Regions from separate parts of the Homo sapiens genome. Here region 1 is linked to region 2. Evidence: fine-mapped expression QTL. Tissue or cell type: whole blood. Region 2 holds a variant in brackets; the other region holds the start of a gene. All regions are shown on one strand. Distances are between the middles of the regions.

Region 1 (5,323 bases), 150 kb after region 2:
TATCCGCTGCTTTTTTAAATATCAAAGTTTCAGAAAGAGGGAATGCCAGACGTGCAGAATCAGAATGCAAACGTACCGAAAGTATTCTCTCTTTCTCAAGATGTGTTGGGGGACAATCAGAGACTCGTCTTCCACCCGTAGGAAATCACTGGCTTGAATTTTAGGTATGGAGTGCTGCCTAACGGCTTTAGTGTGCTTGTGCTACACCTGAGTGCGTCAAAGCTTGGGGGGAAGGGAGGACAGCCCACCGAGCTGCGGTACCCCGCTCAGGCTAGAAGAGCGCTAGGTAAGGGGAACATCCAAAGGGACGCAATGAATTCAAAACCTCTCTTTCCCACCGAGATCTGCAGTCCTGGGGGTCGAAAGGCCCACCTCAAAGGAACCACTGGGTTATTAATTTGATCAGCCAGGCTGGCTCTTCAGGCTGGGGGAGGGGTGGGAATGGGAAGCCGCCATCCGTGCTCATGCGCACCCCAACACTCAAGCTTACCCCCAGACCCCTGGATTCTGCCCACTTTCCCTCTCATTTCACCTCAAAGTCAATGGAGTTAAAAATCAGTCTCTTTCCCCTACTTTTCCCGGGGAGTCTGAATTCCTGGGGTCTGTTAATGATTTTAAAATGTAGAGCCTTCCCTGGGTCGCTCCCGCCTGGAGTTCCCGCCCCCTTCCCTCCTCTCCTCTCCCCACCGCCAACCCCCACCGCAACCATTCTCTTCTCTCTGTCCCTAGAGAAAAGCCCGCTACATCCATTTGGATTTATGTAAGGTGGATTAGGGACACAAAGGAAACAATAAGACCCAATTTACAAAAAAAGGAGGGAGTAGAAAGGGAGGGTAAAAGAGAGAAAAGGAAACGTGATGGGAATAGAAAGCAACAAAGTGAATTAATTTTTAAGGGGGAGGTGGGGGAGGGGAGGGGAACAGACCTCCCTCCCTCCCCTTCAACATTAGCCTAGGGCTCTCAGAGCCTTTTTGTCTTGGGCTCCCAAGTTTTTCTCCCCCCCCCCCAAAAAAAGAGGGGGTTTAAAAAAAAGAAAGAAAACAGTCTCTACATCTGGGGCGAGAGAGGTCTCAGGGGACGTCCTAACAAGTGTGTGAAGTGGCCAGGAGAACGCGGGATCCACGATTCCTCTCAGGGGAATGAATAACCCTAGGGACCGAGGGGCGGCGACGGCCGAGATGGCACCAGAACCACCAGAAGCCACGTCGGAAGGAGATGGGAGATCCAGAGGGCGAGAGAGGGCCCCTTTCCTCCCAAGCGATGTCTGTGGGCAGGTGTATAAATCTCTCAGAGCCTCCGTCTGGAGGGCTCCGGGTACCGGCTGCCCAGCCAAGGCTAAGTTGGTTTTTGGCTCCCTCCTTCGGAACAGAGAAAACGATAGATTACACAGGGATGGATGGACGGATGTCTGGAGAGATGGAAAGATGAATGGATGGATGGATGGGTGGATGGATGGATAGATGAATGGGTGGATGGATGGAGGGATGGATGGACGGACGGACGGACAGATATATGGATGGATGCATTATGGATGGATGCATGGACGGACGGACGGATGCACGGAGAGATGGATGGATGCATGGATGGATAGATAGACGGATGGACGGACGGATAGATAGATGGATGCCGGAAAGGAGAAGAATGAGAGACGGATGTGAGACTAGATGCACGCAGGCCAGAGCACCAGCATACGCTGGAACAGAGCACGAGCATACACTCGAACACACGCGCACACACTCAGGACATCTGCGCACAGACATACAATCCTCCGCGTCCGCTTCCACGCAGGCATTCGCGCACCTACATACACGCAGTTGCACGCGCGCGCACACACACAGGCACACACACGCAGACATGCACACACACGCAGACATGCACACACACCACACATGCAGACATGCACACACACGCAGACATGCACACACACACCACACATACACACACACACACACACAGTTCGCCTCTCCCTGGGTTTCTCAGAAACTAAATGATCACCGCCCCCCCGCCCCGCCCCACCTCCCGACACAGACACACAGGCACATACAATCCTCCCAGCACGTCCGAACGGATGCACAGAAAACTGAGCACCCAGACGGGTCCCGTCGACCCCGCACGTTAGCTCTAAACTGTGTGCAATTCTGGGGCGAAAAGCTAAAACTCGACTGCGTTCAACTTGCCGGCGGGTTCCCCAAGTCTGCGGGGCGAAGAGCTCGGGCCCCTCAGGCCCGCAATCGCACCCTCGGGGCGCTGGGCTTGGCGAGGAGAAAGGTGTCTGACTCCGGGTGCTAGAAATCAGGTCACTGGCGCCTGACGAGCGGCGCCACGACCGCTGCGCTGCGGAGCAGGCCCCGCAGCCCGGTCCCGAGAAGCGCAGGGCTCGGGAAACTTTGCAGAAACCAGAGCTCGAAAGGCTTTCGCTAGAATCCGGGAGCACCAAGCCTTCACTGTGCTCCAGGCTGCGTTTTCCCCTCGCCCCGGGCTGGCTCAGGAGAGGACGTGGTTCTTGTAATTTTTTTTTTAAATCCCGGCGTTGTCTCCCGTGCATCCCCTCAGGGCGCCTCGAGCGGGCCTCTCTGGCGGATGCTGATAAACTTTGGCCTTTGGTTACAAACTTGGACAGACCCGCCGCGTGCACGGGTCACCGCCTCGGGGCAGGCTGTCCGGCGGTTCCCCGCTGCCCCTTCGCCGATCCCCTCGCCTCAGCCCCCTTCTCCCGAATCGGGACGCACCATTCACACTGGGCTCCCCCCGCACCACCTGGCCCTGCGCTCCTGAGGACCCCTCACCCGCGATGGCCCCTCGCTGTCCCCGACCACAGAAAGGCCGTCCCGCTCTTACCTTCATTCGCGGGGTATACCCTGGAACCTGTGACAGCGTCGCAAATCCCGAAGAGACACGAAAATAGGGCGAAATAGAAAATCCCAGCCATGGTTCGCCGGTGCCAACGCTGCTCCTGCCGCTTCTATCCCAGTGGAATAAATGCTTAAGTTAGGAGAGCAGCGGGCTGAAGACATTGCCAAGGGGGCGGGCCCGGCCGGTGACGTGAGCCCGCCAGTCCGGGGCCCGCGGCCAATGGCGGCGCAGACAGGGCGGCCGAGCCCCGCCTTCACCGAGCAGGGCCCGCCCCAGGGTTCCGCCCCCTCCGGGCTCCACGGGGCGCGCGGTCTCCCGGGGCTCTAGGGGGCGAGCACGGCCGGTCCCCGCCCCCGCCTGCCGGAGGGAGCCAGCGGGATCCCCCACGTTACCTCGAAGGTCGAGCCCCTGGACGGCGGAGGGACTTTGGAAAAGCTCGGAATTGACCGAGGGGAGCCAGAGAAGAGGTTGGAAACCTTTTCTCCCACCACGGGCGGTTTAAGATGGAGGAAAACGCTCTTTTATTGAAATAAAAGAAGTCTAAGCTGACCTGCGGTTGCTTCTTTAGGAGAGTCGACGTGTCTGCGTCCAGCGCGCCCGGGCTGAGCTGCAGACTCGCGCCTGCCACCGCCACCCTCTGCCACCTTGCCCTGTTTTGTCTTTATGGCGCTTCCCCCTCTGAAATACTCTTTGCGGGGAGTTTTGTGGCTCTATCACTCGCTTCTTCCCTGGCTCCCCAGATGCCTGGAGAGCGGGGACCTACTTGGTCCCCAACGTCCAGTCCGCAGCAGGGCTCCGTCACTGTCTCCAGAGACTGAACGAATGACTTTCTAGCAGTAAGGAAGTCCCCGCTGGCCCCGTCCCCCTGCACACGCCGTGGACCTCGCCCAGGGCCCAGGACGCCCCGAGATGGCCTTGGGCAGGGAACCAGTTGTGGATTTCCCGGGGGCAGGGTTGGGGGCAGTCCCTGGAACCGGGCCTAGCCCGTCTGGGAGCGGTGGGGTAGAAGTGAAAGGCTTAAGTGTGGGTGCGGGGACTTGCAGCCGCACAGACAAGGCAGACCGGGACTGGGAAGCTGCCCGGAGCGGCTGCTGCGACTCTCCGCTCCGACCTAGCCGGGGCAGCCCTCCCTGCCCCGGGAGAAGACGGCGAGCAGGAGGACCCGCAGAGCCCCGCCCGGCTGCTCCGGCCCCGGGGGCACTGGCACCATCGGGCTGTGGTCTTTTCCCGATGCCCGAGCCGTGGACGCGGCCACCTAAGAGCGGTCCGGCGAAGGCAGCGCAGCCGGTGTCCCAGGGACCGGTCCCCAACGCCACTCGGTGCATTTCCCCAGGCGCTGGCAGGGGCACTGATTCCTAGCAATGAGGCCTCCCTTCCCCTTCCCAGGCCGCCCCTCCTCTGACTCCCTCCAGAGCAGGGCCGAGTTTTCCTGGGGAGCCTGGGTCCCGGCGGCCGGGCGGCCGCTGGGAGGTGGAGGAGCCTCTCCAGCCCCGGCCGCAGCTCATCGTGAGCCAACCGCGCCACCTGCCGGCCAGATGCGGGAGTGTGCGGCCCCGGAGGAAGGGCGAGCGGACAAAGACCGCAACCCGCAATCCGCAACCCCGCAGAGAGGTGGTGCGTGCGTTTGGGCGAGCTTTTCAGCCACCGCCAAGTCTCGTGCACTAGGGCTACTCCTACCGTGGGGCTGCGGACAGCGCTCAAGAGGTCCTGGAGTCTGTCGTGACTCTCGCCTGCTGGATTTCAAAAGATGGAATCGGAAAGCGTTTCAAGGAGAAACTCCTAACAAACCTTCCGGGGGTTGCCTGAGTGGCTGCTCTCGGAAAAGCGGATCCTAAATAAAGCGGGAGGGTTATAGGGCGACGTCGAGGAGAGGACAGGTCTCGAGTCACTGCTACAGTTTCAGGTCACTGGGCTCCGCAGCAGATCGTGTTTTCTCCCGTGGCTCGAGAGCTGCGCTGGTTTCTCATGCAAACTCAGAGCCGAGCTAATGACATGAGCAACTTTTACTTTTACACAAGATGAGCACGCGTGCCGAGGCGCTGGGCGGCGGCTGTGTGAGTTGGTGGCCCAGACGAACAGCTTGTGCGAGACTCTGGGCATTTCGGTTTCTAGATACAAGATTTGCTTAAATGTCACAGTCCAAAGAAGTGGATTTCAGTCATTGTAGCTACTGATTGCACACAAGTAAAAAGGGAAAAAATATGTACTCGGGGGATATATGTATGTGTGTGTGCGTGCATAAATTATTTAAAATAACTGCACTAAATCCCTTTAAGAAATGCATTTCTGGGTTCTTTCATGTGTCTTTCTGAGTTTTACAGAAAAAGAAGACGAATATTGGTCCCTGTCATTTGGCACACAGATTCAAAAGAGAAAAGAGCAATCCGAATTCTTTTTGAAACCTTTTTAAACAATAGATGCTGGCTGCCTCTCTGCAGGATCTTGAGTGTTGCATGTATCTATCTGTGTT
Region 2 (5,374 bases):
GTATAATTAGTAAGTGGTGAAGCCTGAATGCCAACCATAGTCTACAGTCTTAATTACGATGGTCTAAGTCAGATTTTTCAAATGCATTGTTCTGAAGGGTGAAGAATCTTTAGAAGATAATAATTTTTTAACCTCTAAGTATGCTCAGTTGGAATTTAAGATTTTTTGTTTTAATTAAATGACAACAAATAATTAATTCATTTAGGCACACCATATATATAGCAAAAGTTATTGAAAGAGACAACCAGATTGCAGGGTTGTATACGGCAACTACTTTATTATTTTCAAATGCAAACTCTTTGCATTTAGTTTGCTATTTTACAATTTTACAAACTAGGTATAAAAGACCATAAATAAATGACATAAGTTATGTGTACCTAAAGTTCATGAAGGGAAGAAAAATACCTTGACAAATTAAAACAAAATAGAAAATCTATGTCTAACTCCAGAAATCACTCAAAGTTTGGAACGTGTGAACCGAACAATGTTCTGTTAATTTCTTATTCAGTATGAACTAAATTATAATATGCCTTATACATTCTAATTTGAACCACAGTCCTTGCATATTCCAACATACTTAGAGTGATACAAAAAATAAACGCACTCTTCAGTGTGTATCAATGCTTGATGTTGTTTGGAGAATGTTAAATAAGTGAAAATATTGCTTCTAGAACTTTCCTTTATGGGTCAGAATTTAAGTGTCTTCAGACAAATATTGAGGCTATACGGGTGTACGGATTAATACACATATCCTTCACAGATTGAATACAAGAGGTCTCAGAATGCACACACCAGCAGTGTAGCGAGCACAACCTTTCTTTAAAATAAGAACGTTTTTCAACCCACCAGAACATTTCACTCGTAAGATTGCTAAAAAATAACTTGGGGCCTGCATACACAAGGTGAAGCTACTTGATTTGGTGCAGCGGGGTAGTTTCCCACTGCTCTAGAGATCGGCACATGAGTTAGCATTGGAGCTCACTCGGCCAGGGCTTGCCCACGGGCTCAGACCCAGACCCTGAAGTTGGCCTCCTACCCTTACCTCTGGAAAAGATGAACTGCTCAGAAGAGTCAACCTCATTTCTTTATACATATTTTTCAGGCATCAATGCATAGGCACATCCCTTAAAAAATATATTAAGGTCCCCAAAAAGGGGTGAATCAACTTTGTCACTCTGGCATAGAACACAATGCCACACACCCTGTCAGAATGTAATAAATATTTATTGATGATTTTCTCTACTTATTCAACAATAAATGGTTCAGAATCTATTTTTTTTCCTCATTTTTCCCTGATTTGATGTTATAGCTTATATAAATGGCCACGGTTTCTGCAACCACAGCTTAGGATAAGCAAGGCAGCCACTCAGATTATGAAAAATGGCAGTAAGTTGGCTGGAGTTTGGTATACATATCATATCAATACTGAATCTTCACACTCCGGAGCTCCGATTCTAGAAGGCTGATGCTCTTGTGAGGGCAACAGGAGTTAGCTGCATATTAATTACTGTAGAACTTTCCAGGTAATTAGGGAATGTGAAATTGCCTGAGGCCATTTCATCCCAACTACCTTAACCTCAAGAGTCACTGGCATGTATTTTTCTGTGATATTGGGAGACAAAGTATTAATCCAGGACACACCATCTCAAAGCTGACACACATATCTACGTTCATCTCCAAAAGTATATGAATTGCATATATTCGTTCGCATTCAACAAGTCCATTTATGCAGGAAAACAAAGGCTACTTGTACTCCATTTGGGGTTACCAGACACATTCCATCTCCTTCTCTCTCTCCATCAAGGAACTGATGATTCAGATGAGTTCAATCAGAAAATTTGTAATTTTGATGATGGGTTGTCACCTGAATGGATTTATATTTTAAATTACTTCACCATTAAGGTGAAAATGCCTCTGTCCAAAGCTGTAGAATTCTTATTAAGGTTAGTGTGACAGCTACAAAATACACGTGTAGATACAGGATGCGTGTAGATACAGGATGCTGAACATCTCTGGGTTGTCTTTCCAAGGGGATGGTCTCCAGGTCCACTGTATCATGTAGTTCTTCATCTTGAAACTGGTGGAAAACCAGAACTCTCCAGGTGTAGCATTCCACAACATTCATGGGTAGTCCTAAGCATGAGGCTACGCACATACACACACCCGCACACAGACAGGCACGCATACAGACACACTCACACCTATGTACACACATCAAAAGAGATAGTCAGCTCATATTTAGTCTAAGAAAAAAATATATTTATATCACTGCAATGGCACACCCTGGGTAAAATGTTACTTCCGCAATGCATATCATAGGCAGCTCATGGAACTGGCTTTGTTTTGTGTGGTTGCACCTGACCTGGTGTCCATAGTAAGACCTGTAGCATTTGGTCACTTGCTGCCACACCAATGCAGCAGTGACACACAGGAATGAAATATGGAAATACATATAAATAAAACCGCAAAGAGTCTGGGGCAAGGGCTCTGCAGAGCTGGTGCTGCGAGACAGTGCATTCCTCAGTGCAACTGGAGAACAGATGCTGAATCTTAAGTGTTTGCTGTTTCTTTCACTGCGAAAGGGGATTTGAAAGTCACACATTTATTCTTTTCAGGTATGGGTGTTGTTTCATCAGTGTCTTTGCCCCAGAACTGGTGTAATTGAAGCAGAAGAAACACATTTAGACGGAACTGAGGAGGGTGTGTTCTGTTTTCTTCCACGGGCTTTGTAATCAACAGGAAGGGCTGTGAGGCCAAGATAGCAGAATCT[A/G]CTCCCTGTAGATAAAAGAGCAAGACTTTAGACAAAACGTCGACCCATATTGCGAGCCAACTGTCAACCACTATTGTAAGAAAGAATATATAGGTTCGTAGAAGTTGGTATCCTTCAGTAAAAGTAGTTCAGTGGTGAGATCACGAATTATACTTTCCTTTTCTGAAAAATAGCAATTATAAGAGCAAAAAAAACCTGTTTACTAACAGCTTAATTACAACTCCGAGATAGGTACTATTCTTATCTCCATTATATGGATGAGGAAATTGAGCATAAGGAGACTAAGTACCCTGCCCAATGCCATACCCTCTGGAGTGGCAAGGCTGGGATTAGACCCCACAAAGTTCTAATTGATATTTATGCTTTAACCACCGTGTTGAACAGCCTGTCTATGAAATGAAAATCCTGACTTGTTTCAGTTCACAATCCACCCATAGTCAACAATAATGATTGAAAAATGCAAACTAAGGGCCGGGCGCGGTGGCTCACGCCTGTAATCCCAGCGTTTTGGGAGCCGAGGTGGGCGGATCACGAGGTCAGGAGATTGAGACCATCCTGGCTAACGTGGTGAAACCCCGTCTCTACTAAAAATACAAAAAATTAGCCAGGCGTGGTGGCGGGCGCCTGTAGTCCCGGCTACTCGGGAGGCTGAGGCAGGAGGAGAATGGCGTGAACCTGGGAGGCGGAGCTTGCAGTGAGCCGAGACAGCGCCACTGCTCTCCAGCCTGGGTGACAGAGCGAGACTCTGTCTCAAAAAAAAAAGAAAAGAAAAAAAAGAAAAATGCAAACTAAGAAGTGAAAAAAAGTGGTGGTTTTTCTTAACAAGAGAGTAACTCCTGATAAATAGAAGTATCTAATCTAACATGGCGAAAGAGCCATACTCTCTACATGTAAACAGGCAGGAGAGAGGGAACATGGGACACAGGGAGATACTTGCTCTATGAACGACAGAGGTCTTCTAGGTTCAAGCCTCCTTCCACATATCAAGAACTAATCAGCCGCAGGCTGGAATTCTAGACATCAGCCTGGAATCGAACAAGGCTGGCACACAGCAATGGACTCCTCATGGCTCCTCATTGTCCATATATTTGTCACATAATCAACTCAAACCAAAGGAAGTAAGTTCCCTTCTTTCATTTATAACAACCAACTATCCAGATTACTTATTGGACTATGCCTCCCACCACGGTGACCATGTTTAGCAGCTGGTGGCCTCAAGCAAAGGGCAGTAATTAAGACCAAAATGCACTTTTATAGATTATTTTGCCTATTTTATCAAATCACTTGTCTGTTTTGCATATGTGTACATTTATCGTGTAGAGAATAAAATTTAATTTTTTGTAGTAAACGACCATATTTAAAATTGTAGAAAACACTTTAGTCTATTTAAAGAGAGAGAAATCGTTTTCTGGCCAGGTCTTGTAGCTCATACCTGTAATTCCAGCACTTTGGGAGCCCAAGGAGGGAAGACTGCTTGAGCCCAAGAGTTTGAGACCAGCCTGGGCAAAAGAGCAAGACCCCATCTTTAAAAAAAAAAAAAAAAATTAGCCAGGCATGGTTGTGCACACCTGTGGTCCCTGGGTCGACATGAACATGAATGTTATGTTGACAATTACGTAAAAATGACAGAAAAGTCATCAAATCTACCTTCTAACTATTTCCTCTCTGGAAATCGGTCAAATCCATCAAATGTAGTTTTTGAAACCTGAATGTGAAGGGATTTCATCAGGTGGGCAGGTATTTATGTGAAGTATGAGGAGAACATGAATATGATCTTAAAACGCTAGAGTGTATTCCACGTCCTGCGGACACACAAGGTTGGTAATGGTTTCTTTTGCTACTAGAAATTCTTAAAGGAGAAAGAATGGTCTCATAAACACGTGTTGCCTTTCAGTCTGCCAATTCCTTCTCCACTTAACATCTGGATATCAATAGATATTACATAAATATATTTGTAATATTAAGTGGGCAATTTGGGGACTTGGTGTGTATGCAGAAATGATTGGACATTTGAATTGAGATGTAAGGGAATGTGAAGACTTGTATCTACTTAATGCCAGGATACGAGTTGAGTGAAATAAGCCTTCTCCTCACCATTGAATTCAGGCAACTCCTTTATCATGGGAAATTTCTTAAACAGAGACCAGACAAAGCATGTGGTCTATGTAGGGTCATGAGTTAAGGAGAATTCATTGTGACTAAATAAACAAAGGCTTGTTCCTTTGAGTCAGTCGTGATGACATCAAAATGTCTTTACCATCCAGTTCTTTTCATTGCAATAGAATTTTACTTTTGTATCACTGTCTTCCCCATTACAAAACAATAATTTTATAAATGTCAAGGCTAAATAATGCATGTTTATCCTGCCAGCATAACTTGAAAGGTCTACCACCATTGTATAAATATGTATTTACCTCCAAACTCTCATAAATCCATTTAAGTGAAGAAGCTTCACTGTGTGACCCCCCTACCACTGAACTTCATTTCACCCCACTCTGGCATGTTGTAATAAAACAATTGGGGTTACAAGTGAAAGACAGATGAATAATACTTGGACAATGTTGGAGGAAGAAGCGTACCTTTCTTCTGTGGAGCTCACCGTGT

The links.
Region 1: it holds the start of EPHA4, and the variant in region 2 is fine-mapped to the expression of EPHA4 in whole blood (TOPMed, PIP above 0.99).

The regions. Positions count from the first base shown.
Region 1 is chr2:221,569,320-221,574,642 of GRCh38, forward strand. It overlaps EPHA4 (EPH receptor A4), which reads right to left and starts at 2,985. Exons shown (of 18, transcript NM_004438.5): 1 at 2,839-2,985. The coding sequence starts at 2,929. RefSeq lists silencers at 2,941-3,360, 3,961-4,240, 4,291-4,450.
Region 2 is chr2:221,417,778-221,423,151 of GRCh38, forward strand. It overlaps EPHA4 (EPH receptor A4), which reads right to left. Exons shown (of 18, transcript NM_004438.5): 18 at 250-2,775. Among named protein-coding and RNA genes, the nearest start is that of EPHA4, 150 kb to the right of the region's middle. The variant A/G (reference allele first, on the strand shown) is at 2,771.